Linked DNA regions of Homo sapiens: region 2 is linked to region 1. Evidence: fine-mapped expression QTL. A gene starts in region 1. The other region holds a variant in brackets. All regions are shown on one strand. Distances are from middle to middle.

Region 1 (15,581 bases):
GTTTTCATTTTTCCTAATTTAGAAAGCAATCAAACTAACTGGTGAAAACATTATTAAATTGTTTATATCCCATATTCTAGAAATTAGGCTTCTATAAAATAACAACCAATTGCACAAATTAATTTTTTTTATTAAATTGAAAGTTAGCCTGTAATCCTAGCACTTTGGGAGGCCAAAACAGGCGGACTGTCCTTAGCTCAAGAGTTCTAGACCAACCTGGCTTACATGGCAAAACCCTGTGTCTACAAAAAAAATACAAAAATTAGTCAGGCATGGCGGTGTGCACCTGTAGTCCCAGCTACTTGGGGGCTGAGGCATGAGGATTGCTTGAGCCCAGGAGGTCAAGGCTGCAGTAAGCCACGATCACACCACTGTACTCCAGCCTAGGTGACAAAATGAGACCCCATCTCAAAAAAAGAAAAAAAAGAAAGTTGAGGATCTGAATCCATCATGCAATGTACGCTTCCCCAGCAAAGAAAACATGAATTAAAAGGACTTATGTGGCTGGGCACAATGGCTCATGCCTGTAATCTCCACACTTTACGAGGGCAAGGCAGGCAGATCGCTCGAGCTCAGGAATTTCAGACCAGCCTGGGCAACATGTTTGAAATCTTCTCTCTACTAAAAGTACAAAAATTAGGCTGGGCGCGGTGGCTCATGCCTATAATCCCAGCACTTTCGGAGGCCAAGGTGGGTGGATCACGAGGTCAGAAGATCAAGACCACTCTGGCCAACATGGTGAAACCCTGTCTCTACTAAAAAAAATACAAAAACTAGCCAGGCGTGGTGGCGCGCGCCTATAATCCCATCTACAGGTGGCTGACGCAGGAGAATCACTTGAACCCGGGAGGCAGAGGTTGCAGTAAGCCGAGATTGCGCCACTGCACTCCAGCCTAGGCGACAGAGCGAGATTCTGTCTTGGAAAAAAAAAAATTATTCAGGCATGGTGGCAGGCACCTGTAGTCCCACCTATTCAGGAGGCTGAGGCAGGAGAATCGCTTGAACCTGGGAGGTGGAGGTTGCAGTGAGCTGAGATCAGACCACTGCACTCCAGCCTGGGTGATAGAGTGAGATTCCAGCTCAAAAAAAAAAAAAAAAATTACCCAAGCATGGTGGTATGCTCCTGTAGTCCCAGTTACTTGGGAGGCTGAGGCAGGAGAATCACTTGAACCCAGGAGGCAAAGGTTGCAGTGGGCTGAGATCATGCCACTGCACTCCAGCTGGGGAAACAGAGGGAGACTCAGTCTCAAAAAAAAATTAGCCAGGCATGGTGGCATGGGTCTGTATTCCCAGCTCCTTGGGAGGCTGAGATGGGAGGATCACTTGAGCCAGGATGGTTAGTTAAGGTTGCGGTGAGCTGTAACAGCACCACTGCACTCCAGCCTGGGTGACAGAGAGAAACCCTGTGTCAAAAACAACAGAAACTCATGTAACTTGAGCATCAATTTCACCCTCTAAAACTGCTCTGCCCCATAATACCTTCCTTTGTAAATAGAACCACCTCCTATCCAGCCTGAGAAGATTCTCAGCTCCACTGTCTTCCTCACTTTCCACATATAGTAACATCCAATGCCTGTTCCACCCTACCTCCCAAATAGCTCTTAGACGTGCCCCCTCCTCACGATCCCTACTGCCACTGTCTGTCCCACCACACAGCCTCAATCCACCCACTATGACCATCACCATAACCTTCTATACTGCACTTGTAGACTTGGCAGAGATATTTCATATTCAAGGTAGTATGATGCAGTGAAAAAAAAGTGGGCTTCTTCCAAGTTTCATCGTTTAGTTTTGTGGCCCTGGGAAGAGACCTAAACCTCTCTAAGACCCAGTTTCCTCTTCTGTATAATGCAAGAAACACCTACCTTGAGTAAGGATTGCTGCATGAATTAGAGGTGAGGCTTGTAAAGAACCTAGTTCTAAATGGAGCCTTGTACCTAAGTCAATGCTTTATTATTTTTATTATCTTCTTATCAGTAAAAATGAGCAGTAAGCCCTCTGAATTGTTTTGAAGACTGGTGAGATTAAACACAGTGACTGTTTCATTTATTTTCAATGGCTCCACATCCCCAAGACAAAATGTGGCCATGGCCCTTTCACAATTGCATCTCCTGCCACTTGACTTTACGTGCATTCTCCTTTAGCGTAATGAATTATTTAATACTAAGACTATGCAGCCCTTCATGCCCTCCTCTCCTCAAAGCCATAATTACAGGTGGAATCTTATGTGTGGGCAAGTCCTTTATGTATATTTCAACATGCAAGTAATTAATTACCGTATTTTCAAATTTGGAAAGCAATATCCATGAGTACAACTATATTTAAGGGGATGATAGGGCAAAATATTTGCAAGCAGAAAGTTCTGAAGAAACCTTCAAACCATCGCTGTCATACATGTTCACATAAACATGGGGAATGTGATAAAAGATGATAAATTCTTGCTAAGTTATATCTGAGAAATAACTTCGCCAGAGACGAAATCTTGATTTCAAATAAAAAGAAGGGGCTGGGCGTGGGGGCTCACGCCTGTAATCCCAGCACTTTGGGAGGCTGAGGCAGGCGGATCACCTGAGGTCGGGAGTTCAAGACCAACCTCACCAACATGAAGAAACGCTATCTCTACTAAAAATACAAAACTGGCCAGGTGTGGTGGCGCATGCCTGTAATCCTAGCTACTCGGGAGGCTGAAGCAGAAGAATCACTTGAACCCAAGAGGCAGAATTTGCGGTGAGCCGAGATCACACCATTGCACTCCAGCCTGGGCAACAAGAGTGAAACTCCATCTCAAAAAAAAAAAAAAAAAAAAAAGGGATAGTGCAAGTTAGAGCAACTGGGTCCAGAAAAAAAGAAATGTGATTGAAAGCGATGATGTTTATTTGTTGAGGTTGTTTGTAAACAGTTTCCAAAAGCATATCTTAATGTATTTTAGATTTTAAGATTAATTTGATAATAAATGTAAATATTTTTTCTTTAAAAACATCGAGACCATCCTGGCTAACAAGGTGAAAGCCCATCTCTACTAAAAATACGAAAAATTAGCCAGGTGTGGTGGTGAATGCGTGTAGTCTCAGCTACTCCGGAGGCTGAGGCAGGAGAATGGCGTGAACCCGGGAGGTGGAGCTTGCAGTGAGCCGAGATCACACCACCGCACTCCAGGCTGGGTGAAAGTGCGAGACTCCATCTCAAAATAAAATAAAATAAAATAAAAAAATAAAAACAATGAGAGAAGTTAAAAATCATAGTTCAGATAGATCAATTAAGTATTAACTGTCTCTTTATGTTTATTCATAGATTGGAAAAGAAATCTGGGGTTTTTCTTGCCATATGATTTTGTGATTTAGAACTTAAAGATATAAAAGAAACTAACAATCTTTCTAAGCATCTGAAGGGAAAACAATTCTGCTTAAAGATGAATCTAGGTAATTTAAGTGGCATTCATCAGGTCACCAATGTGACAAGCTCTAAAACTGTGTAAGTACATATTTTTGTGTTGAATGATTTAACTATAACCCTGAAAAAGAATAGAGTTGGCTCCAAAAGAAAAAGCTGCCCAATGTCCAGAAAGTGCTTCTTCAGCAGCTGGTAACTATCCTTGGTGTCAGGGTTGACAAAATAAGCAAGAAAATGGGTTGAAGCTCATTAGTGCATAGTTTACGGTATCCAAGCTGCAAAACTTTTCTAAAGCTGTCTCACAGATACATTTCCTTTTTAAAATGCCATCAGTAATGCTGAATCATTCCTTTCTAAGGGGCTCTTTTTCAACTTTACAACATTTTAAATTTCAACCATTTTTAAGTTAAAAAAAAACTCTTTTTTTTTATTATTATACTTTAAGTTTTAGGGTACATGTGCACAACGTGCAGATTAGTTACATATGTATACATGTGCCATGCTGGTGTGCTGCACCCATTAACTCGTCATTTAGCATTAGGTATATCTCCTAATGCTATCCATCCCCCCTCCCCCCACCCCACAACAGTCCCCAGAGTGTGATGTTCCCCTTCCTGTGTCCATGTGTTCTCATTGTTCAATTCCCATCTATGAGTGAGAACATGCGGTGTAAAAAAAACTCTTAAGTTTAGATCCAAGGTATTTTTATATATGTATATTTTTAGTTTTCAGGTTATTTTGGAGCTATGACTCTTCTTCAAACACTATTCTGGCCTGGGTGACAGGCGCACAGTGCTGATTTACGTACATCCCAAACATATAATCAGCCAGGCCCTGAACATAACTGGGCATGGGTGACCCTCACTCAGGTCACTGAAGAGCAAGTGTTACTTGTGAAATCACAAAACCAGACTCAAGTATTCTAGTGGACATACTGCTCTGTCCAGCTGCCCAAAGAATCATGAAAAGGAGAACACTTTGATGATGTCAGAAGTCATCCTTTTTTCAAATCCTTAGTACTATTCTTTCAAGTGTGTTCTTCTGTGAGCTGAATTACAGTAGTCCATGCAGAGCACTAAACAACATCAGGCCAGGTCAAAAAACAATTGAGTTGAGGGAAGAAATAACTAGGAAAAAAATTTAATGAATTTCATCTTCTTGATTTTGCACATCTTTAGGCAACACTGCCGACTTGCATTATTGTCACAGCAGTACCTAGCCTGGGAAGGAAGGTAGCAACATTGGTGGGTACTGACTCTGGAAAACAAAATGATCTGCAAAGACTGAGCCATGTTGCTATACTGCAAATTACTAATGTCCAATTTGGACTTAATACAGTAGTTTTCTGTTGACATTCCCATAAACTGGTTCAATTATTTTTAAATAAATCATATTTGTTCAAAAATCCTAGAAATAAGCAAAGATTTATTTTATGCTTGGCTTTATAGATATAATGCAACATCATTTACTATACATACCTGATGAGCAAAACTTTCTTTTGAAAAATCAAAACACTCACAAAATATTTTTCAAAACTGAGGTGTTGGAACACCTCAGTTTGCACAATTATTTTGGATTTACTTTTCATACAAGAAATGTTACTTGAAATCAATTTAACTCATTTAAGTTATATTTCCAACTAAAGTATATTCTATGTTTAAAGAATAAAAATAATAGGCCTCACTATCAAATAATCAACTATAATAATTTTATTACCTAAAATACATTTTTATATAACTGTATAAACCAGTTTTTTAGGAATCTCGAATTTCACTTATGCTAAATGCAACTGAAAATAAATATATGAACAAGAATCGTTTAGTAAAAATAATGCTGGTAAATTTTTATTAACCTCCTGCTATATAGAACAAAATATATATTAAAATATTTATAGAAAAAATTTTAGTTGGTATTTGCATTATTCTGTATTAAGAAACCACAGTTACATTATTCCTACAAAACGTTTTTTTCACATTTTTCTCATTACTGCTGGTGAAACTAATACAGGTAGTTTTATTAACATCTGTCACTTCCTATACATCCTAATTTTCTTAGTATTTATCTAACACTAATCAATATTGACTAGTGAACCCTTGATAAAAGTGTGCCTTCTTCTAGTACAAACTGATTCTTTCATAAAATATTTCATGCCCACTGTGTGCTAGCTTTTGTGTTAAAGACTTGGGATGCAAAGCTCATGGTGTAGCAAAGGCAAAACACAATTGCATTAAGGTTTGCTATGCAAGGTAAGTGCAATGACAGAAATATCCCTAGAAGGATTGTTTAAATCAAGCAGCAAAGTCAGTAAGAGGTACATTTCATTAAATTAAGTCCATCTCCTTTATCAAGAAGGTGATGGCTTACCACTTTCTGGTTTGCACTTCCCTATCTTGGCAAAGCAGTGTTGATAGGTATAGACAATATCAAAACATCTCTGAGAATGACAGTCATCATCCTGCTTCCTCACTTCACAAGGTTTAGCATCACTGCATTTAAACATGTCAGCCTAATCTAAGTTGGAAAATATAAACAAGTCCAGCTGTTGTTAAGACCAGACAGGTACATGGTAAGTAAAATAGGAACCAGAAATTTACAGCCTGACACACAAAAATTAGATTCCTAGTTGGGATTTTTAATCATAGGTAGTACATTTATTTTTTGGTAGACAGGCATCCAAATAAAAATAAGACATATCTAAAAGTATAAATGCTTACCATATTACACACTAAATTGGAAGGCAAGTTGATTCAGTATGTCATAAATCACATCTTTTAACTGTAACAGCATAAAATAAATAATAGATTTTTGATATTATATGCCAAACAATAATTAACATTTAAATGTCAATATGCACCTAAAAATAAGGACTTGACACACAGAAAAGGAGTGTATATTACATTTAAATTTGTAAGTGGTTATTTGCTACCCATAGTGCCTCAAGAATCAGATAAAAAAGACCGAGTTACTTAAACAATATGTATGTTCTTAAGAGTGACTGATAGGAAATCAAAGCACGTTCATTGTTTTCTCCCATACATCCGACAGGCTTTAAAAGAGGCCAAATACCAAAAAACTAAAGAGACATTATACATCACCCATTTTTGATATTCTGGTTTTATAAATATATCATTTCAACCAGAAGAGCCTCATTTGAAATGCAACACTACCCACGTATTTGATATACACCACTCTTTCAGACTATTTGTAGGTGAGTTCAATTTTTTCTAGTCAGGGTGACCTCATAAGACTTGGACATGGCCCAGCCTCGCTCCGAGGTGAAATCAAGGCAGTGGGATCACCCAGCAAAGTTGTTTTTCTTCTGCAGCCCAATGACAAGAATGACTAAAGCCAAGCAGAATGAAGATTGCCTAGCCTTTGTCAAATGGGATTGGTGAGGAGTTCCCTCTCTCACCAAGGAGTGGTTACATCCAGAGGAAAGCTGAGGTGCCACACAGTCTAAATCCTGAAATTGTGGGTCCTCAGGCACAAACCTCATCACTTTTGTGGACTACGAAATTGTCGCTGAAACCTGGGTTTGAGATAACAGCGGTTTTGAGAAGTTTGATTTATACATTCCAACCCACTTGAATGTCGTCTTAGAGTGCTGAGACTTGATGACTCTTACTAATCTCCCTCCCCCGCAGGCCAAACAGCCATTGCCTCCCAAATTCCAGCTTATATATTCATTTCTTAGGCAATTTTTCTCTTGGGGGAGGAAACAATGGACTCTTTCAATCTTCTCTTACCAACAAAGGGCCCTAGAAGAAAAAACAGTCCTTTCAATCACCTCCTTTATGACTTCTTGATCATGATGAGTGGGCCTTGCGGGTGGGGGGAGTGAGGGCCAGGAAAGGGAGAGGTGACAGGCAACTCACCTCTTTGAGCTGCTCCAGCTCCTGTTTGAGGCTGTCGTACTCAGCCTCCAGTTCATCATACTGCTGTTTGAGGGTCAGCTTCTCCTCCAGCACCACCAGCCCGTACTCGGCAGCCTGGATCTTCTCGTGGGTGGTCTCCGTGAGCTCCTTGGTTAGCCTCTCTATCTCAGTCTTATAATGGTCCACCGTCTGCAATACCTCTTCTGCGGCCATAGCCCCGGTGGATGGAGGCAGGAGGGGGTTACGGGGTGGGGGAGATGGATGCGAAGCTGGCGGGGAAAGGGAGAAGGAAATGGGAAGGGATGGGTGGAAACGGAAAAGAAAGTGCGGCCGGATGAATGAGCAGCGCGATGCCCCGCCGGCTCTGGTGGCAGCGGCAGCTACACCGCCCGAGAAACTGACGAGAAATGCAACATGGAGAACAGGGCAGAGGGTCAGGGGCGAGGCGGCAAAGGCCGCCGCATGTGTCCTCGGGGCCGGCCCCTGCGTGCGGTCAGCAGCCGTGCGGCATGGCCCGGGCTGCGGCGGCCGCGGGTAGCGAGGGGCTCCGGATTCTGCTTATTCAGAGACGCCCGTCCGCCATGTCTCCCGGGCCGCGTCACTGCAGTCTCGCCCTGGGTCTGGCGCGCTCCGGCTCGCGGCTCGCTCTCTCGCTCCACCTGCTCCCTCTGGCCCTGCAGCAGCCGGTGCGGAATGATGCAGTCTCGGGGCCGGCTCCCTCCCTTCCCGCGTGGCGGCGGCTCCGAGCAGGGGGCGGGGAGCGGATGGAGTCAGCGCGGGGGGCGGAGGGAAGGACCAGACGGAAACATCCCGAGGCGCCTCCCGCCGGGCGCGCGGGCCGCCGCCCGCTGCACCGTGAGGCGCGCCAGGAGGAGGCGCAGGCGACGGGTCTGGGACTGGGAAGCGGTGGGGCGCGCGCGGCGGGGGAGCCTCCGCCCTGTCCGGCTCGCGGGGGCGGGAGCTCCTCCCAGGGCTTTGTCCCGGTGGCAGTAGAAGACCCCGAGAGCGGCGTGGGCGCCCGGGCTCTTTTGCTACGTCGAGGGCCGAAGCTCAGGAAACTGCCTGGAACGCTTTCTCCCGAGAAAAGCAAACAAAACTATCGCGGTCGCGGTCCGCGCATCCTCCTCGTCCCCTGGGCGCGCAGAAGGCTTTTTGGGCCACCTGCCCCCAAAAGACCGCTGGGTTTCCCAAAGCTTTCAAGACGCACCCCAAGGCGCCCTCCTCCGTCGTCCCCCTCTCTCCCTGCCTCTCCCAAGTCTGGCCTGGGCCACCTAACACTCTCACCAGATAACCTTACTATCCTCACAGGACAGTCCGCTAAATATTGCTCGCCCTCACCCAGCGTATCACAAGAGCGCTATCCACTCAGAAAAAAAATATCTCCACAATACATGCACCCAGGAAACCTCTAGCTAGGTACTGTATATCTTGCCCCAATAGTTTCCATCAAAGCACCTTACTCTGTGTCTTCAATAAAGGAAAACTGCTTGAAATTCCCTATATAAGATACCAACGATGCCCTGTAATAAGCATTTTTTAAACAATAAGAGCTAAGAGTTCTTGAGACCCATACCAAGCATTCTTCTAAGTATGTAACATGCGTTCTCTCCAATCCTAACAATGCTTTGAGGTAAGAGCCATTATCCTCAGTTTACAGGGGGTGAAAGGCAAAGGGAGATGTGATTTGTCCAAAGTCAGGCAACTCTGGAATCTTAACTCGGGAGCACTAAACGGGATCATTATGTTGGCTTCAGGTTCACTCATTACTCATACAAACCCAGCAACTACATATTACATGCTTTTAAGATAATCACATTAATCCATATGAAGAGTGATGATGAACGGTTACAAAAGGAGGTGAAAGCAAAGTAAGAGTGGAGTAAATGAAAGAGTGGAGAAGGGTCGAGAATCAAGAGGAAGAACGCAACATGAGAGAAAAGAAGCAATTTCTGTGTAACGGGAGGCTGTGAGACCCACAGATCAGTGGGTCTTTCCAGTTCCCTCTCTTCTTCTGCATGGCACCTATTCCAGAGCTGTTTCTCAGTGACCAGGTGATGAACACACATGCGTTTTCTAAGTTAGAAAGCAGGACTCAACTCTCCCATCATTGTGTACCTGGTAAAAAAAAAAAAAAAAAAAAAAAAGATGATTGTTGACCGGGCACAGTGGCTCACGCCTATAATCCCAGCACTTTGGGAGGCAGAAGTGGATGGATCATTTGAGGTCCGGAGTTCAAGACTAGCCTGGCCCACATGGTGAAATCCCATCTCTACTAAAAATACAAAAATTAGCCAGGTATGGTGGTGCACGCCTGTGATCCCAGCTACTTGGGAGGCTGAGGCAGGAGAATTGCTTGAATCCAGGAGGTGGAGGGTACAGATGGCACCACTATACTCCAGCCTAGGCAACAGAGACTCCATCTCAAAAAAAAAAAAAAAAAAGGACACTTGTTGATGGCGTGGGAGAAAAAGCATATGACAGTGCCCTTCCAAAGTTTCCACTAGCAGGCTGTCTGGATGTGTTTTCCATTGCTTCACAAACCAGACAAGTTTCCTTCTAAACGCCAGCGATCACAACAGAATATTCTCATGTGATTGTCTGATCTAAAAATAAAACAAAAGAATATTCTCTTGTGATTGTCTGATCTAAAAATAAATAAATAAAAGGAGAAAACATTCCAAATGTGCAGCCACCATAAATTCCAGCCTTGTAGAGAAGCGGATGATAATGACTACAACATCCGACCCATCTTTCCTTATCTCGCACTCCAGGTGGGAAGCCCCTCCTGTGTGCTCCCGTGGCATCTGACCTCTGACACGTTGATGAATGATGATGAACTGCTGAAAAGAGATGGAACCTGCAATTGCAGGTAGCTAACCTGCCTTCCCAGGAAGCCTCTGGCTGTTCCTCACTCTACAAACTGTAAGCATAGGCCTTCCAAAGGGATCATAAGACTCGCACTAGATTGCCTGTGCCTCCCTCTCCTTTGGATCAAACTAAGAACAGAGTTTGCCTCTGTGACTTTCCTTTTTGCTAAATTTCCATTGTGGTCCAGCCCCTATGCTCTATCCTGCCCCGTTTTTCTGATTGATACACTTTTGTCACTTGTCACTTTTGTCTGATTTCAGGCATGTCTTGCACACTCTGACACTTTAAGATGTTGCTTAGTTGAACTTTGATCCTTAAATGTTGGTATTTAACGTAAAGAAGATAAACTTATTTTCTTGTTTTTTTTCTCTTTTTTTCTGAGACAGGGTCTCCATCACTTAGGCTGGAGTGGAGTGGCATGATCATGACTCCCTGCAGCCTCAACCTCCTGGACTCAAGCGATCCTCCCACCTCAGCCTCCTGAGTAGCTGGAACTACAGATGAATACCACCACACTCAGCTAATTTTTTAAATTTTTGTAGAGACAGGGTCTGTCTATGTTGCCCAGGCTGGTCTCAAACTCCTGGGATCAAGTGATCCTCCCACCCTGGCCTCCCAAAGTTCTGGGATTACAGATGTGAGCCACCATGCCCAGCCAAATTTATTTTCCTATACACCATGCTGTTCCAGTACTGCATAGTTACAGTTCCCTCTTTTTTCGTATATGCCATATGTATTGCATATATATCAATGACAGGTATATAGAAAATAATTTCTTAAAGCATTCCTAGGCTGGGTGTGGTGGCTCATACTGGTAATCCTAGCACTTTGGGAGGCTGAGGCAGAAGGGTCACTTGAGGCCAGCAGTTCAAGACCAGCCTGGGCAACATAGCGAGACCTCATGGCTACAAAAAATTAAAAAATACTAGCTGGGCATGGTAATACATGCCTGTGGTCCCCAATACTTAGGAGGCTGAGGCAGTATGATGGCTTGAACCCAAGAGATTAAGGCTGCAATGTACTGATTGTGCCACTGTGCTCTAGCCTGGTGACAAAGCAAGACTCACCAAAAGAAAAGAAAAAAAGGCCAGGCTCGGTGGCTTACACCTGTAGTCCCAGTACTTTGGGAGGCCGAGGTGGGCGGATCATCTGAGGTCAGGAGTTCGAGACCAGCCCGACCAACATGGTGAAACCCCATCTCTACTAAAAATACAAAAATTAGCTGGGTGTGGTGGTGGGCGCCTGTAATCCCAGCTACTCGGGAGGCTGAGGCAGGAGAATCACTTGAATTCGGGAGTTGGAGGTTGGAGTGAGCAGAGATCCGCCACTGCACTCTAGCCCAAGTGACAGAGTGAGACTCCGTCTCAAAAAAAAGAAAAGAAAAAAAGCAAAAAAAAAAAGCACAAGCTAGTCTACTTGGGTCATATCCAACTTTGCCACTTACTAGCTGTGTGTTTCTCAGTTGTGTCATATCTAAAAAGGAGATAATAATATAATCTAATTATGAGATTGTTGTGAATAGAATAGTATCACACACATAAGCATTTTATATGTGCTTTTTAAAAGTTTTAAAAGAAAAACAAGGATAAAATTTAGGTAGAAAGAAGAAAAAAAGATAATCAGTAGAGATCTCTCTGAAGAAGTGATATTCATTTTATTATCTATGAGGAACAAAAAGGAGTCGGATATACAAAATGTGGGGGAGAAGCTTTTCAGGGAAAGGAAATAATGTGTAAAAGCCAAAGGCAGAAAAGAGCTTGTTGAGTGCAAAGAATAAAAATCTGAGAGGCTGCTGGGTGCAGTGGCTCATGCCTGTAATCTCAGCACTCTGGGAGGCCAAGGTAGGAGGATTATGTGAGCTCAGGAGTTCGAGACCAGCCTGGGCAACATACCAAGACCCCATTTCTACTAAAAAAAAAAAAAATTTTAATCGAACGAGCATGGTGGTGCATACCTGTAGTCCCAGCTACTTGGGAGGCTGAGGTGGGACGATCCCATGAGCCTGGCAGTGAAGGCTACAGTGAGCCATGATCGTGCCACTGCACTCCAGCCTGGGTGACAGAGCAAGACCCTGTCTCAAAAACAAATAAAAAAAAAAAAAAATGAAAGAGGCTGAGGATTAAGAAGCTCAAGGGAAATGGCCTAAGACTATATCAAGAAGTCAGGCAACATCAGAGAGATAGGCGGGAATTATACTTGCCTTGCAAGTCAGAATGAAGAATTTGGGTTTTATTCTCAGGGGAGGCCTTTGATGATTCTTTAGTCAGGAAATGAAATAGTTCTATTTGTATTTTAAGAATGTCAGCTGGATGCAGTGGCTCACGCCTGTAATCCCAGAGCACTGTGGGAGGCTGAGGCAGGCTGATTGCTTGATTCCAGGAGTTCAAGACCAACCTGGACAACATGGTGAAACCCCGTCCCTACAAAAAAAATTTTTTTAATTAAAATTTTTCTACTGCACACACAAAAAAGTTGGAAGATATCAAAAGATAGAAGTAGGGTCCCTAGTTAGGAAGTTGTTGCAGTTGTCCAGGAAAAAGAAAATCATGGCCTAGACTGAGATGATAGCAGCTGGGAAAAGAAGTACATGGATTTATATTGAGGAAGGAGTGGAATGGGAGAGTAGAATTCTTAAGACCTTTTTGAAGACTGAATGTGGGATAGGGAGAAAAAAGGAATCATAAATAAATTCTAATTTTCTGACTTGGGAAGACGGGCCGCCATTTAGTTAGATGGAACAGTTTTAAGAAATCAAGAGTTCTATTTTGAACATATTAGGCTTAAGACACTTTTGAAACATTTGTGGGGTTTTTGTTTTGTTTTTTTGAGATGGAGTCTCCCTCTGTTGCCCAGGCTGGAGTGCAGTGGCGTGATCTCGGCTCACTACAGCCTTTGCCTCCCGGGTTCAAGCGATTCTCCTGCCTCAGCCTCCCAAGTAGCTGGGACTACAGGCATGTGCCACCACACCCAGCTAATTTTTGTATTCTTAATAGAGACGTGGTTTTGCCATGTTGGCCAGGCTGGTCTTGAACTCCTGACCTCAGGTGATCCGCCTGCCTTGGCCTCCCAAAGTGCTGGGATTACAAGCATGAGCCACCGTGCCCAGCCACTTTTGAGATATTTGAATAGAAATATTAAGTCAATAATTTGATGTAAGACAAAAATTAAGAAGAGACTTCTTAGGAGGTATGATGACTTTGCTTTGAAAATCACTAGCGTTAGAGGGCATTGAAACCCATGGAAAACAGATGGGATTATCTAGGGAAAGATGTAAATAAAGAAGAGAAAGGGGTCTAGGATCTAGCCCTGAAGTATCCCTATTAAAGGTTGAGTTGGAAAGGAAAAGCCAGCAAAGAGAGTTGAGAGGGACTGGGTGGGGGGAAAATCAGGAGAGAAACATTTGAAAGGTAACAAAAGAGAAGTGTGTATGAGGAGCGAGGGAATAAGGACCAAGTCAGTGCCAACAAGAGGTCACAGCCAAGTACTATAAGGACACAAAATGTCACTGGATTTGGCAACATGGAGGTGGGTGCTCTTGATAAGATTCATTTGTGTGGAACAGAGAAGGCAGATACCAGGTTGTAGTGGATTACAGCATGAATAGAAATTTAAGATGTGTGCTGGGCGCAGTGGCTCATGCCTGCAATTCCAGAACTTTGGGAGGCCAAGGCAGGCAGATCATCTGAGGTCAAGAGTTTGAGATGAGCTTGGCCAACACGGCGAAACCCTGTCTCTACTAAAAATACAAAAATTAGCCAGGTGTGATGACGCACACCTGTAGTCCCAGCTACTCGGGAGGCTGAGGCAGGAGAATTGCTTGAACCTGGGAGGTGGTGGTTGCAGTGAGCCAAGATCGTGGCACTGCACTCCAGCCTGGGCAACAGAGCGAGACTCCATCTCAAAAAATTTAAGATGTGGAGACAGCCTAATCAGACAACTCCATGTCCCCAGAAATGATGGCAGGGATAACACACAATGAGAGGGTGTATCTGTGGGGCACTGGGGTGCTCTGCTGTGAATGGCCGGTGGGAAATCTTCCCTTCAAGAGCACTTCACATAGTGAGACCTCCAGATGCACTTTCAAGGGAGATGTGTGGCTTCCACACCAGTGCCTTCTGGGGCCAGGACTTCATCTCCAAGCTGCTTGGATACCAGCTCTCTCAGTGGCTGCCCTTGTCCACTTTAATCACCTGTACCCTGTAGGGGTGGGTTGCCCCTACACACCTGTGGGTGTTTCTCGTAAGGTGGGACGAGAGATTTGGAAAAGAAAAAGACACAGAGACAAAGTACAGAGAAAGAAATAAGGGGACCCGGGGAACCAGCGTTCAGCATTTGGAGGATCCCGCCAGCCTCTGAGTTCCCTTAGTATTTATTGATCATCTGTGGGTGTTTCTCAAAGAGGGGGATGTGTCAGGGTCACAAGACAATTGTGGGGAGAGGGTCAGCAGACAAACACGTGAACAAAGGTCTTTGCATCATAGACAATGTAAAGGATTAAGTGCTCTGCTTTTAGATATGCATACACATAAACATCTCAATGCTTTACAAAGCAGTATTGCTGCCCGCAGGTCCCACCTCCAGCCCTAAGGCGGTTTTTCCCTATCTCAGTAGATGGAGCATACAATCGGGTTTTATACCGAGACATTCCATTGCCCAGGGACAGGCAGGAGACAGATGCCTTCCTCTTGTCTCAACTGCAAGAGGCATTCCTTCCTCTTTTACTAATCCTCCTCAGCACAGACCCTTTACGGGTGTCGGGCTGGGGGACGGTCAGGTCTTTCCCTTCCCACGAGGCCATATTTCAGACTATCACATGGGGAGAAACCTTGGACAATACCTGGCTTTCCTAGACAGAGGTCCCTGCGGCCTTCCGCAGTTTTTGTGTCCCTGGGTACTTGAGATTAGGGAGTGGTGATGACTCTTAAGGAGCATGCTGCCCTCAAGCATCTATTTAACAAAGCACATCTTGCACCGCCCTTAATCCATTCAACTCTGAGTTGACACAGCACATGTTTCAGAGAGCACGGGGTTGGGGGTAAGGTCATAGATTAACAGAATCTCAAGGCAGAAGAATTTTTCTTAGTACATAACAAAATGGAGTCTCCTATGTCTACTTCTTTCTACACAGACACAGTAACAATCTGATCTCTCTTGCTTTTCCCCACAGTACCCTTTAGCTGTCATCCTCCTATCCCATCCCCATCCTCCACCCCATTACCCCAGTCCTAAGGAACTACTAAACTATTTTTTGTCTCTATAGCTTTCCCTAATCTTGATATTTCATATAAATAAAATCACATAATATGTAGTCTTTTGTGACTGGCTTCTTTCTTAACATAATGTTTTCAAAATATATCTATGTTGTAGCATATATCATACTACTTTCCTTTTTTTTTTTTTTTTTTTTTTGAGACGGAGTTTCGCTATTGTTGCCCAGGCTGGATGGAG
Region 2 (15,581 bases), 150 kb after region 1:
CTCTGAACAACTTGAAGCTGCTTGCATCTGGAGATGTCAGGGCTGCCCAGTGGAGGGATGGTCTGCCTGAAAACCAAAGCAGAGGACAGCAGAGCTCAAAGATACAGTGTCCCAAATCTTTAAAACTCTCTTTTGGATTTAGATCCTGGATCCATCAAAACCCAAAGGTTGTGCTCCATGAACTTTTTTTTTTTTTTTTGAGACAGTCTCGCTCTGTCGTCCAGGCTGGAGTGCAGTGGTGTGATCTCAGCTCACTGCAACCTCCCCTCCTGGGTTCAAGCAATTCTCCTATCTCAGCCTCCTGAGTTAGCTGGGACTACAGGCGCATGCCACCACACCTGGCTAATTTTGGGGTTTCACCTGTTAGCCAGGGTGGTCTCGATTTCCTGACCTCATGATCCACCTGCCTTGGCCTCCCAAAGTGCTGGGATTACAGGCGTGAGCCACTGCGACCAGCCCATGGACTTTATTTTCTAAGACAGAGTCTCACTCTGTCACCCGAGCTAGGGTACAGTGGCGCGATCTCAGCTCACTGCAACCTCTGCCTCCCGGATAGCCGGGATTTCAGGCATGTGCCACCACGCCTGGCTAATTTTTTGTACTTTTAGTAGAGATGGAGCTTCACCATGTTGGCCAGGCTGGTCTCCAACTCCTGACCTCAGGTGATCTGCCCACCTTGGCCTCCCAAAGTGCTGGGATTACAGGCATGAGCCACCGCACCCGACCCTGATCCATGAACTTTAAAAGTATGTCATCTAATGAATTCTCCTTTGGGGCTTGAAAAATAATAATCACCTTATGGTTTCTGTTTCTTAAAACTTCACTGGACAATACAATTTCTTTTAATACACTTTGTCATTTTAATCACCTTATTTACAAATGAAACCTTGTAATTTGATACATCAAGAGAATCTTAAGTTACTGTCATTAAATCTTTGCGATCATGAAAACCAGGAGCATAAAATGTATAGTTCCAATCTCACTTGAGATTATTTACCTCAACAGCCTCCAACTTTGCTCTTCACTTACAAGTACACTTAAGGTATTAGGAATAGTGTAAGTATTGCATAGTTGCCACCCAACAAAGCATTTAGAATTCCTCAAGGTCCAAGATTCTTTCTTCACAATCTTCTTCCAAAGTGAATGTTTAACTTGCGTATCTATAGCCAGGGTTAGTCAACTGTTATCCTGGACTTATCTCAAAATGAATACACTCCCTGTCTGTTTTACATAATAGAGTGTGCCTCTAATGGGGGAGGGAGGGAGGCCTGATTAGATTCTTGAAATTCACCTTCACAAATGCTTTTTTTTTTTTTTTTTTAAAAAGACAGAATCTTGCTCTGTTACCCAGGCTGCAGTACGATGGGGTGACTTCAGGTCACTGCAACCTCCACCTCCTGGGTTCAGCCACTTGAGTAGCTAGGATTACAGGCATGTGCCACCACGCCCGACTAATTTTTGTTATTATTAGTAAAGATGGGGTTTTGCCATGTTGGCCAACTTGAGGCCAGGGCTGGTCTCGAACTCCTGGCCTCAAGTGATCTGCCTGCCCCAGCCTCTTAAAGTGCTGGCATTATAGGCGTGAGCCACCACACCTGGCCTACAAATACGTTTTAAGCAACATTAAATCAATTCCCTAAGCATTTGAGCTCCAATTATATCCAAGACACTGATAATCTAGGAGGGAAGAGAGATTCCTGTACAATCACAGAGATAATGTAGAACAACAAAGCTTTGGGGCAAGTTTGTCCTGCCTAGGAATTTGGAGGCATTTTTTATTCCAAACAAGCCTGCAGGTAAATCCAGATGTGGACCAGTAGTGACAGGTACTTCCTAACAAAACAAGACCTACAAAAAAGAGAATCTAAGAGGATCTACAGTGATGGGTTTAATCAATAAAAAGCTCATAAATTTAGAGCTTAAATGAACCAGCTGAATTTCTGCTAAGGCAGCATTACATGTCCCAGGCCACAAAATCTATTTCCTCTAACATGACAATAGCTAACATTTATTGGGCACTTGCCATGCATCAGGAGCTGTTTAACTGTGATATGCATGAAACTCATGTAACTCTACCATAACAATCCTATGACATTAGTGCTTGTCCCCATTTTATAGATGAGAGAACAGGCAGAGGTTTATTTTCCAGGGTTGGCTGAGTGCTACAGCCAAGATCTGAACCAAAGCAGTGTGGTTACAGGGACCATGGTCTTAATCATTAGGTGAGACTTCCTAACACACTTTGTGGTTACAGATGAAAGCCCTGGACATGATCACTTTGGCTGCACGGGAAGCATCCTCCCAGAGTGGTGCTCTGCGCCACATTCCCCTATGTGCCACCAACAGTAATAAAATATAATAAAAACAATCAAATAAACACAGCACAGACAGAAGCAGACCTCTGCCCAGGTAACTTCCACCACAATTCCCTTACCAAAGACCTCTTTCCTTATTTTGCTAAGATTAACAACTGATTTTTCAGTACTATGCCAACAACATTTCTTCTCAAGCTTTGCTGTCAATTCCATTGTGACCCACAGTTTAATTTAAAACCGATGTTGATTCACTGAGCTAGTAATTTTATTCGGTAATAGGTGAATTACTCCATAGTTGAGTGTGAATAACCGCCTGGTTAAATCAGGGCGGGTTTCTTAGAGGTGATACACTTACCGTTGAGCACAACTTTACTCTTTAATTATCGTGTACATTCCCATTTCCCTCCAAACACGTCAGTCCCTCTCCACACAGTGTTTACTTCTTTGGTCCTAGGGACAGCAAGAAACATTTTATAATAAAAGAGCACATGCTAATGTGTTTACTAGATATGACACTGCTGTGCAAAACTGTTTTCTTTTATGGCTGCACTGAAAGCATGCTAAGTTTACTGAATTCTTATTAAGTGTCCTAAGTAACAGAAATAGAAACTAGGTCTGGCCTGAAAATACCATTCACTTAAGTTAGAATTTATGTGCGCTCCTCTAGGTCCGCTATTGTAGTATCACTGCAAAACAATAATACTTTATCTCTGCACTTGTCTTTATTGGATTAATATTAAACAGAAAAAAATCCGACTGCACAGGGGAAAAAACCTAAAACCTTAACATGCATGCACATTAACAGTGACTGAAACATGATTAAAGCTAACACATTTAGCAGAAAAATGCAATCCCCAAACAAGCTCTGCGGCCCGCCTACTGAAATGCACCCGCCCGCCACTAAATGAAAATGCGCCTCAAGCTCATACACATCCTTATGTTAAGACAGTATGCACTCGATGTACTACAAATAAATTGTTTTCACGGAAATGATTCCCCGAAAGTTTGCTGCTGAACTCAGGACCCTAAGGACGTTTGCTTAGGGAATCCGTGTCCCTCGAGAACACCTAAGATGGGTATGCGTTTGTGCATTTAAAAATGCCTCAAGGAACTATTGCTGAGGAACAGAAACCATCGCCGGCGCAGAAGCGTTCGCGGACCACTTGGAGATAGATGCCAGTACAGCAATTCTGTTCCAGGAGGCTTCGGCTTAAGAGGGCCGGGGAGGAGGAGAACCCTCGGGAAATAGCAAAAAAAAAAAAAGATTTTTCTTTTTCACTCCAGCGACAGGAAAGCCTTAAAAACATAAGCAGCTCTCATACCCACCCGCCTCACCAGCCGCGCCTCGCAGTTCGACAAAATGCGTCCTAGCCTTCGCCACTCGCGACCTCTACCGCGCAGAGCCAGGCAATGAGGGAAAACAGCCAGCGAGGCCCGCCCTCCGGTGCAAGGCTCGGCATCCGCGGAGGCCCAGGGCCGGCCCCGGTGCGGCGGGCAGAAGCAAGCGCGGCGGCCCGGCCCAGCTCCGGTGGGCGGACGGCGGGACGCGCGAGCCGGCGGGGCCCGAGGCCCGGGTTCCGGGGCCGCCCGCGACTGCGTCTTTGCCGCAGAACAAAAGCGCTCTGCGCCGCGCGCAGGCCCGGACCGCGAGTGCCTCTGGCTCCCGGCTCCCGGCCCCCGCCCCGCCCGGACCCCGGAAGGCGGAGGGACCTCGGGGTGCTCGTCTCACACTTACCGACAAAGGGAAGAGGACCACCCCGGCAAGCGGGGAGAAAACCGGCGGCCTCCCGGGCCCCAGAGTTTAAGTCAAGTGGGGTCCGCCTCCAGGGGCGGGTCGAGGAGCCAGGCCCAGGATCCAGGAACAGCTACGCTCCGCCTCACGCCCGAGGCGGTGGCTGCGAGGGCCGCGCCGCCGCGGTCCTAGTGCCACCAGAGAAGCCGCGGACCCGGCCCGCAGATAACACCCGGGCTTGCAGAGCGCTTTCATCTGCCCGACGCGGAAATCTCCTGCAGCGATCTTCTACCTTCAGCGTGCATCCGCAGCACCCAGAGGGCACGTTAAAGAGAGATTGAGAACCACCAGCAAAACTGCTGATTCAGTAGGTTTGGGGTGGGGCTGAAAAATGTGCATTTCTAACAAGTTCCTGAGACCGACTGTTGCTGCTGGCCTCAGGACCAATTTTTTCTATAAAGCGCATGGAAGTCAGAGTGCACCCAAGAGATTGTTAACCCTTAAAAAACAGAAAAAAAAAAAAGAAATCAACAAGTTAGAGGCAAATAAGTGTGAAAGAAAGTGGATAGTCTATTTGGGGATTCTGAAAGTCCCTGAGGAAAGTTGACTTTGGAGACCAGATCACGAAGCACGACCTCTTAATTGCCGACCTTTTGTTATAGATTAACTCCCTTATTTTCTTGTTCCCAGCTCAGACCAGATGGCATCTGAGATAAAATACGCATTGAATAAGATAAATGACCGCTTGACTATTACATCCTTAATGTGGAATGTTAAATAGACCCTTCCCAAAAAGAAACACTGCCTTGAACCAATCAAATTGCTATGCGTTAACCTTCTATGGAAAATGTTGACATCCTGTTAAGCTTCCCAGACCCTGCCTGTGTAAACGACCCTCAAACTTCTCCCTTTCGAAGCACTGACCCCCATCTTTTGGAGTCTGTGTCCTACCGGGTCGCCATCCTCAAACTTTGCACTCAAATAAACCAATATTTAATCATATTGCCCGAATCTCATTATTAAGGTTTACGTAAGCGTTTACTTAGTAATGAAGGTTGCAACCAGGATGGCAAATCAGAGATTGTGCCACTGGAGAGGGGCAAGGGAGCTTATGTTTATAGGAATTTATTTGTTACATAAATTGTCAGATTAGTTCATTGGTGAATTAAACGAAGAAGTCTTTAGTCATTACTAGAAGAGTGCGTTTGCGTCTGTCAGAAACAAAACAAAAAAACTACATACAGAATATTCTTTCTTTTTTGGGGGGGGGACGGAGTCACGCTCTGTCGCCCAGGCTGGAGTGCAGTGGCACGATCTCGGCTCACTGCAAGCTCCGCCTCCCAGGTTCACGCCATTCTGCTGCCTCAGCCTCCCAAGTAGCTGGGACTACAGGCGCCCGCCACCATGCCCGGCTAATTTTTTGTATTTTAGTAGAGACGGGGTTTCACCATGTTAGCCAGGATGGTCTCGATCTCCTGACCTCTTGATCCGCCCGCCTTAGCCTCCCAAAGTGCTGGGATTACAGGCATGAGCCACCGCGCCCGGCCAGAATATTCTTAAAGATTGGGGGTGGCCAGGTGTGGTGGCTCAGGCCTGTAACCCCAGCACTTTGTGTCACGCGCATCCGTGTGAAGAGACCACCAAACAAGCTTTGCGTGAGCAACAAGACTGTTTATTTCACCTGGGTGCAGGCGGGCTGAGTCCGAAAAGAGAGTCAGCAAAGGGTGGTGGGATTATCTTTAATTCTTATAGGTTTTGGGAGAGGCTCCGCGGAACAATGTTTTGCGGGCAGGGGGTGGATCTCACAAAGTACATTCTCAAGGGTGGGGAGAATTACAAAGAACCTTCTTAAGGGTGGGGGAGATTACAAAGAACCTTCTTAAGGGTGGGGAGAATTACAAAGAACCTTCTTAAGGGTGGGGGAGATTACAAAATACATTGATCTGTTAGGATGGGGCAGAAACAAATCACAATGGTGGAATGTCATCAGTTAAGGCTATTTTCGCTTCTTTTGTGGATCTTCAGTTGCTTCAGGCCATCTGGATGTATACGTGCAGGTCACAGGGGATATGATGGCTTAGCTTGGGCTCAGAGGCCTGACAGTTTGGGAGGCTGAGGTGGGTGAATCACTTGAAATCAGGAGTTTGAGACCAACGTGACCAACATGGTGAAACCCTGTTTCTACTAAAAATATAAAAATTAGCCAGGCGTGGTTGTGGGCACCTGTAATTCTCAGCTACTCGGGAGGCTGAGGCGGGAGAATTGCTTAAACCCAGGAAGCAGAGGTTGCAGTGAGCCGAGATCACGCCACTGCACTCCAGCGTGGGCCACAGAAAGAGTCTGTCTCATGAAACAAAACAAACAAAAAAAGATTGGGGATCAGGCGTGGTGGCTTATGCTTGTAATCCCAGCACTTTGGGGAGGATCACTTGAGGCCAGGAGTTTGAGAGAGCAGCCTTGCCAACATGGTGAACCCAATCTCTACAAAAAATATACAAAAAACAAAAAAAATTAGCCAGGAGTGGTGGCATGCGCCTGTAGTCCCAGCTACTTGGGAGGCTGAGATGGGGGGATCACTTGAGCTTGGGAGGCAGAGGTTGCAGTGAGCCAAGATTGAGCCACTGAACTCCGGCCTGGGTGACAGAGTAAGAGCCTGTCTCGGAAAATAATAATAATAATAATAATAATATTGAGACCAGCTTTCTTGGGTTGTGTGTTGTTGCAAAAACGGTTGTGTTAGATATGAATTCTAAATTTCTCTTCAAAGAATCAATATGTCAGTATGGTCAATCTTTGCCTTTTACTTTTAAACTTAACTTCCTCGTAAAGCAACCTTTTTCCATCACCTGCTCCACCCTGACTCATTTCAATCACCTGCTCCACCCTGACTCATTCCGATTTCCTGCCCCGCCTTAACCATTTTTCCTGCCAAACCGCTCACCCCATCACTCTCTTTAAATTAGCCAATCAGAATTAGTTTAGCCTGTGCGGTCTAACCCTAGCCAACAGGGGAACGACACAGCAGCAGAGGCCACGTGCATCAGGAATAAGAACCCCTTCCCCTCCCTTGCCCAGGTGTGAGCTCACCATTGCTCCATCTGTGAGGGCGCACCCGTCTATAGAAGTACATTGCCGCCGGGCGCAGTGGCTCACGCCTGTAATCCCAGTACTTTGGGAGGCCGAGGCAGGCGGATCATGAGGTCAGGAGATCAAGACCATCATGGCTAACACTAAAAAATACAAAAAATTAGCTGGGCGTGGTGGCAGGTGCCTGTAGTCCCAGCTACTCCGGAGGCTGAGGCAGGAGAATGGCATGAACCCGGGAGGCGGAGCTTGCAGTGAGCCGAGATTGCGACACGCACTCCAGCCTGGGCGACAGAGCAAGACTCTGTCTCAAAAAAAAAAAAAAAAGAAGTACATTGCCTTGCTGAGAATTAAAAAGAAAATTTATATTCGAGTGCTATTTCTTTTGCAACACCAAAACTTTATTTATAACAGTTGTTTGTGAAGGAAATATTTTTCACAGTTTCTTCGTGGGCCTCAAAGTTTAGCAGCAGCTCAGCATGGAGTCAATAGCCCAAGATGGAGTCACTGATATCAAGCCTGGAAAATTGCTAAGCTGCATTAAGGAGACTTTTTTTTTTTTTCATGCTATTGTAGTAAGGACAACATCCATTAATGCAGAGGAATCTTTTCAAAGAAA[A/G]TGAAATAGACTTAGGGTTTTTATAGGAGGAAGTAAACAAGGAAATCTTGTCTGAATGATTAAGGGATGAGAAAGGGCAGAGGTGGTTAGTTAGTGCTTGTGACATAAGAGGGCAGACTATTCCTTTGCGCTTGAGGTTTGTTGGTTTTGGTTTTTAATTTTTGTAGTCTTCAGTATCTCCTATATCCACCACCATCACCACCTCCTCCATATGGATCTACATAATCTTTTCCACCATAATCTCCCCTCCCACCATCATCTCCTCTGCCTTAGAAACCTCCTTTACCACCTCCATCCCACCTCCTCCCTCTCCCCCACCACTTTCCCATCCTCCTCTACCCCAGCCAACTCTTCCACCTCCACCCCCACAGCCTCTTCTACTACCACCTCTACCTCCACAACCACCACCCCAACCACCCCTTCCGCCACTGCCTTCTTGTCTCTTTTGCCAAGGGGGCATTTCAGAGGGTGGTGGTTCAATTTCATTTGGCCAGCCTCCCCTGTCAGGCACCCTTCCCATCAGCACCTTATTAATGGCACATGCCATCATCTGGCTGGCTCCACTGCTTGTCCTAATGATCTTGGATAGATTATCATGAGCAGCAAGTAGATGCACCATTATAATCGCTGTCTTGGGTGACAAAGCATAACACTGAGGCTGGTAAATTCTTGCTGTGTCATCTTTTCTTACCTTGGCTGTATCACACCGTGCAACGGACTGTATTGCCGCATCTAATTGTTTCATAACATTCGCTAGAGGCACTCATGTTCACAGGAAAGAGCATCATTGACTCTTTCCAGTTGTTCTGCCTGTTTCAAATTTAAATTAATTTTCAGCAGAGTGGTTTTCTTTAATTTTAATAAAAAAATTAACAATTTTTAAAAATTTGAAATAAGATGGGATCTTGCTATGTCACCCAAATTGGTCTCCAACTCCTGGGCTCAAGAGATCCTCCCATCTCTGCCTCACAAAGTGCTGGGATTATAGGCATGAGCCACTGCGTCCTGCCTGTCTTTCACCTTTGATTCCACTTGGTTTAGCATAACCAGAATGTCAGAAGTTGTTTACTTGGGTACACCAAGGTTATCACACAGAACTTGAACTTCCTGATAAATTTCATTATTTTTATCTAATTGAGAATTTTAATGTTTCTTGTTCTGTAATATCTGTGAAGCTTCAAGTTCTGTACTTAAAAATAATAGGAGTTTCAAACAGTCCTTTTTATATTTTTTTATTTACAGTGGCGCGATCTCAGCTCACTGTGGGCTTGACCTCCTTGACTTAAGCAATTCTTCCACCTCAGGCCCCCAAGTAGTTGGAACAACATGCATGCACCACTACACCCAGCTGATTTTTGTATTTTTTGTAGAGATGGGGTTCACCATGTTGCCCAGGCTGGCCTTGAACTCCTGGGACTCAAGCAATCTGTCCACCTTGGTCTCCCAAAGTGCTGGGATAACAGGTGTGAGCCATTGTACCCAGCCAGTCCTCCTTTTTTAAAATGATCTTTAGTATCTCCTGATATGAGTACAGAATATGGACATGCCATTTCTTTTAAAAAAATCATTTACCTCAAGCTGGAAGCTCTCTAGATCATCTCTTCCAGCAGAAGTCATACTTTCTTCCAAGTTGCATAATGATTTTATTTGAAAGCCTAACCATATCCTGTATAGGAATTTATATAGTTTATATATCTATTCCTTTACAGTATATACCACCTTCTTCCTGTATAAAAGCCTATATATATAATCCTATACCGTATATGCTCCTACATATAGTCCACTCTGCTGCCTTCATAAGGGCTTGCTCCTCTAGCAATGGTCCCTTATACCCCAGCACCTCCAGTGTGTCTAGCACATCTCCGTCTATTGTTGGTTCAGGACCCGGCTCTGGCCCTCTAATGGCTCTTTGGCTCAAACCTGTTCAGTGCTCTTAAGTATGCCCCAAGGTTTGAATCTTGTTTTGCAGCTCCCTAGTGATAGAACTTTGTGGGAAAATCACTTCATTTTTTTGTTTTTTCGCTCTTCTGAAAAATGGGGATAACAATAATACTTACCTTATTTAATTTTTGAGATAGTTACATGAATTAGTACATATACCTCACTAGGAGCAGTTCCTGGAACATAGCTGGACACACTTGGCTCAGATAAGGGATTTTCTAGCACCTAGCCACGCAGGTCAGCAAGTAAAAACAAACCCAAGGAGAGGGACTTTTGTTGCCGGAAATTCTGATAGGGACCCCACTCCTATACAGCCTAAGGAGGGCTTAGTGTCCGTTAGGATTTAATGTCTGGGAAGCATTTGGGATAAAGTAGCTGATCTCTCTGCCATGTATCCTTGTCTGTACTTGTGCTGATTTTATCCTCTCTCTGCTAGGTAAGTAAAGGTTGTCTGATTTTTCCAAAAGTGTTTGATCTTTGCACAGTCTTAAAGTACAAGTGATATTCATCAATAGAGTAGTCTTAAATGGTCACCAGTAAGAAACTTGCAAAGGGAGAATGCAATCTCATGGACCTGAAAGTTTGTTTACTCAAGAGCCAAGCTTTACACTGTCTTCTCTCTAAGAGATTTACAACCTAGTGTGCCAGAAAGCCTTGTCAACTGGTCAGGCTTGGGAAAGATTCCCCTCATAGATTAGATTGCTCCATACTATGCTCCCTTTCATAAATTACGGGATCCTCTCCCTATGTTTCCCAGCATTCAAAAACAAAGGCTCTCTTAGATGCTATCTGAGTCTTTCATGAGCATAGTACTTAGCCTTAAGGCTTGTTAAGTCTTTTTTTTTTTGAGACGGAGTCTTGCTCTGTCGCCCAGGCTGGAGTGCAGTGGCAAAATCTCGGCTCACTGCAACCTCCATCTCCCAGGTTTAAGCAATTCTCTGCCTCAGCCTCCCGAGTAGCTGGGATTACAGGCACCCGCCACCAGGCCCGGTGAATTTTTTGTATTTTTAGTAGAGATGGGGTTTCACCATCTTGGCCAGGCTTGTCTTGAACTGCTGACCTTGTGATCCACCTGCCTTGGCCTCCCACAGTGCTGGGATTACAGGCGTGAGCCACCGAAACTGGCCAAGGCTTGTTAACTCTTAAACTTATAAAATATGTTTTAGAAAATGTTTTAATGACATCATTAACATATCTATAGTAAAAGTTATTTTGGTTTGCAAAAAAAAATGCCTATTCATTTAAGTTGTAAATGAGGTCATTAGTTCTTTTTCTTTTCTTGATTGCTCCCTATAATCTGTTTCCCGTTCTTCCTTTTTTTTTGAGATAGACCCTCACTCTGTCATCTAGGCTGGAATGCAGTGGCATGATCTTGGCTCACTACAACCTCCGCCTCCCTGCTTTAAGCGATTGTCCTGCCTCAGCCTCCCAAGTAGCAGGGATTACAGGACCGCACCACTACACCTGGCCAATTTTGTATTTTTAGTAGAGATGGGGTTTCACCATGTTGTCCAGGCTGGTCTAGAATTCCTGACCTCAAGTGATCTGCTTGCCTCAGCCTCCCAAAGTTCTGGGATTACAGGCATGAGCCACCACGCCAGGCCTCCCCTTCTTTTTTGTTTCTTTCCCCTTCTTGTTAGTAATGGTTAGCTGGGTACAAAGTCAGTTTGTATGTAGTCACTTGGAATGTAAGTAGAGATTATATTCCCCCAAGTCTCTCTTGCAGCTAGATGTTGTCAAGTTTCAGTTCTCATAATGACATATAAGCAGAAATGTTATATGCAACTTCTGCCTAAGGGAATGGCTTACCGTGAAACTCTTCTTACATTTGCTTGGATTGGAATGTAGAAATGGCAGTAACTTAATTTCAACCATGCAAAAAAAAAAAAAGAAATAACTCCTGAGGGCAGGAACTCTTCTCTGTTTTTTTGACCATAAACCTCTTTGGTAGTTTGGTAGAGCCCATGGACACCTTCTTAGAATCTTTTTTTTTTTTTTTTTTTTTTTTTAAGACGGATTCTTGCTCTGTCACCCAGGCTGGAATGCAGTGGCACGATCTCAGCGACAACCCCTGCCTTCCAGGTTCAAGAGATTCTCATGCCTCAGCCTCCCTGAGTAGTTGGGATTATAGGCATGGGCCACCAAGCCCGGCTAATTACAGACAGGGTTTCACCATGTTGGCCAGGCTGGTCAGAAACTCCTGACCTCAAGTGATCCACCCGTCTCGGTCTCCTAAAGTGCTGGGATTACAGGCATGAGCCACCATGCCTGGCCAGAATAATCTTTTGAATGCATAAAATAAAATATGTGAGATTACAAAGGAAATTAATTCAAAATGAAAGTTATCAAATATTTTAAAAAATCAAATATGTAAAATGTGGTTAGGCTCTGTTTCCCCACCCAAATCTCATCTTGAATTATAATCCCTATAATCCCCATGTGTCAAGAGAGAGACCAGGTGGAGGTAATTGGATTATGGGGGTGGTTTCCCCCATGCTGTTCTCGTGATATTGAGTGAGTTATCTTGAGATGCGATGGTTTTATAAGGGACTCTTCCCCCTTTGCTCAGCACTTCTTCCTGCCACCTTTTGAAGAAGGTAGCTTGCTTCCCCTTCTTCTGTCGTGATTGTAAGTTTCCTGAGGCCTCCCCAGCCATGTGGAACTATGAGTCAATTCAATCTCTTTGTAAATTACCCAGTCTCAGGCAGTTCTTTATAGCAGTGTGAAAACGGACTAATACAGTATTTATACATTTCTTTAAAGGGGAGAAGGCATGTGGGAAGGAGGGGGTAGGGTGGTGAGGCAAATGGTTATACTTTTGTGGAACTATTAATTAATTAGAGCTCAGTAAATCTACATTTTATACAGATAAGGTGATTATATTATAAAGAATTCAGAGAAAAAGGGAGTAGAGGAAGAATCAATTATGCAAACATCTCAGGGTAGGTGGAGGAATGATTTGTTCTGCTCCTGGGAAGATCAGCTTGTAATTGACATTATCAGTGTGACTCTAGCAAACTTTAGTTTTAGGAGCTAGACTTAGATGGTAGACCTAAAGTTAAAATGGACATGGTTCTTGTTTTATGGGAGGATGTACATCTTGAAAGGTTTTGAGGCCAGCAAAGAGTTTAGTTGGGAAAAATTTATGAGGGCCATCATGTGGAGATGGTATCAGACCTTCTGCCTTTCTGTGAGGGTCTGGGTAATGTATGATGCTTTGACACCAGGTTGTAAAGTAATAGCTGTCTATTTGGGAAAAGGATAGCAGTGCTGCATGACCCAGCACTGCTGCATAACAAGTTTGGGGGTCCTAAGATGTTTTTATTTCTCCTTTACAAGTCACAGGGACTGCTCAGCTGAATGAGCCCTGCTTCCAACCGTCTCACAACTTTGAATCATCACCTCAGCCTTTTTTTTTTCTTTTTTATTGAGATGAGTTCTCACTCTGTTGCCAGGCTGGAGTGCAGTGGTAAAATTACGGCTCACTGCCGCCTCAACCTCCCAGGCCCAAGAGATCATCCCACCTCACCCTCCAGGGTAGCTGGGACCACAGGTGTGTGCTAGCACGCCTGGCTAATTTTTGTATTTTTTTGTAGAGATGTGGTTTTACCATGTTGCCCAGATTGTTCTTGAACTTCTGGGCTTAAGTGATCCACCCACCTCAGCCTCTAAAAGTGCCATGATTACAGGTGTGAGCTACTGTGCCTACTTAAGCCTTTTTTTTTTTTTTTGAGACTGAGTCTGACTCTGTTGCCCAGGCTGGAGTGCACTGGCACAGTCTCAGCTCACTGCAGCCTCCACCTCCCGGGTTCAAGCCATTCTCCTGCCTCAGCCTCCTGAGTAGCTGGGACTACAGGTCCGGGCAACCACGCCTGGCTAATTGTTGCATTTTTAGTAGAGACAGGGTCTCACCATATTGGTCAGGCTGGTCTTGAACTCCTGGCCTCAGGTGATCGGCCCTCCCAAAGTGCTGGGATTACAGGTGTGGGCCACTATGCCCAGCCCCACTTAAGCCTTCGTTACCTTTATTGTCTTTGGTATAAGCCTCTGGATATGATTTGTTTTTACTACTCAAGGTTCTCACAGATGACCTGGGCTCATAGTTCCAAGAGAATTTTGGGGCCTGTGTATTTATTTCTTCTTTGTTCTTTTTATTTGAATATGAGCTCAATGTTGTGCGGTAAATAGAATTAAATATTGGATCCTATGGCAGAATCTTACTAAGGACATTCTAGAACTTTAGTGGCTGTTCTGGTGAACTTTGGATGTGAATAAGATAATCTGTTTTTGGCACCTTACAGTCAATGGTTAAATGTTCCCAGATATTCAATAATTAGCGTTTTTAAATGACCAGGAAGAGTCCTCTCAAAGGAAAATTCTAAAATAGCTTCTATTAAGGACTTATTAGAAAAGGCCAATAAAAATATAGAGGACCTAAAAGCCAACGTTTAAATCTCTTCTCCATCTCTTGCCTAACCCGGGATTAACTTACATCCTAGACCCCTGGCCCTCAACTTCCTCCTGCCTTTCTATTGGGGGAGCCCACCCCCAATATTTCAATGTAGGTTCTTTCTATTTTGCATAAGTGTTGGCTGGCTGAGAAATAAAGAGAGACAGTACAAAGAGAGGAATTTTATAGCTGGGCTGCCAGGGGTGACATCACATATCAGTAGGACTGTGATGCCTGCCTGAGTCTCAGACCAGCAAGTTTTTATTAAGGGTTTCAAAAGGGGAGAGGGTGTAAGAACAGAGAGTAGGTACAAAGATCACATGTTTCAAAGAGCAAAAAGCAGAACCGCTGATAAGAGTCTAACAAAGATCACATGCTTCTGAGGGAACAGGGCAAAGGGCAAAAGCAGAACCACTGATTAGGGTCCAACAACGATCACAGGGCAAAGGGCAAAAGTAGAACCACTGATAAGAGCCTATGTTCAGCGGTGCACATATTGTCTTGATAAACATCTTTTTTTTTTTTTTCTAGTTGTCAAATGATTCTTTATTGAAATATTTTCCTTTGTGCTTAACTGGCTGGGCATTCCACAGCACCACTGTTGATGTCATCTATGATGTCATGAGGGTAGTGGCCATCAACATTACAGCCCACAGACTGGGCAGTCCCCAGGATCTCTTTAATGGTTCCAGAGAGTTCTCTGGCTAAGGATCAGTGCCGCATCTGTCAAGCAATGTTGACGATCTCATCAAAAGTTATATTCCTACTGTGTTTAATGTTTTTCTATTAATTTCTGTCTCTTGGTGCTTCCTTGAGGGCTTTGATGATCAGGGCAGAGGCAGAAGCCACCACCTCAATCTGGGTCTGTCTGTTCTGAATGGTCAGGTTGACTGTAATCCTCAGGCCCTTCTAGTCACCTGTTTCCTTGGCAATGTCATCACCAACCTTTTTTGGAGACAGACCAGGGGGCCGATCTTGGGGGCCAGTGCAGAAGTGGCACTGACTTCACCTCCGGTGCACCTCAGGTATACGACTTTGATCTCATTAGGGTTGAACTTCGGTGGCATGGTGGAGGCGGCTGGTGTCAGATGAACCTGGATTTGGGATGACTAAAGAAAGTTGCACCTTGGCCTCCTCTGAGGTGAAAGCTGAGAGTGATGAAACATCTTAAACAACAGAAAATAGGGTTTGAGAGCAAAGAACCAGTCTGACCACAAATTTACTAGCGCTGAGTTTTCCCAACCCTAGTAAGCCTAAGGATTCTGCAGGAGAGGAGGGCTTATCTCAGTCCTTATCTCAACTGCACAAGACAGACATTCCCAGAGTGGCCGTTCATAGACCTCCCCCCAGGGATGCATTCTTTTCCCAGGGTATTAATATTAATATTCCTTGTTAGGAAAAGAATTTAGCGATATGTTTCCTACTTGCATGTCCGTTTAT

The links. PIP is the estimated chance that this variant, and not a neighbour inherited with it, causes the effect.
Region 2: its variant is fine-mapped to the expression of BICD1 in whole blood (INTERVAL, PIP above 0.99).

What each region holds. Positions count from the first base shown.
Region 1 is chr12:32,099,229-32,114,809 of GRCh38, reverse strand. It overlaps BICD1 (BICD cargo adaptor 1), which reads right to left and starts at 7,963. Exons shown (of 10, transcript NM_001714.4): 1 at 7,266-7,963. The coding sequence starts at 7,478. BICD1-AS1 (BICD1 antisense RNA 1) reads left to right here and starts at 7,348. Exons shown (of 3, transcript NR_185992.1): 1 at 7,348-7,416; 2 at 10,037-10,134; 3 at 10,520-10,693. RefSeq lists enhancers at 6,356-6,993, 7,521-7,600 and a silencer at 7,961-8,440.
Region 2 is chr12:31,947,961-31,963,541 of GRCh38, reverse strand. LOC105369725 (a long non-coding RNA gene) reads left to right here and starts at 4,238. Exons shown (of 2, transcript XR_931503.2): 1 at 4,238-4,414; 2 at 4,738-5,049. RESF1 (retroelement silencing factor 1) reads right to left here and starts at 4,127. Exons shown (of 6, transcript NM_018169.4): 1 at 4,051-4,127; 2 at 2,671-2,765. It also overlaps the pseudogene RPL12P32 and the pseudogene LOC100132543. RefSeq lists enhancers at 1-487, 5,209-6,002, 6,006-6,505, 10,733-11,234 and silencers at 1,414-1,473, 3,817-4,156, 14,460-14,660. The variant A/G (reference allele first, on the strand shown) is at 7,751.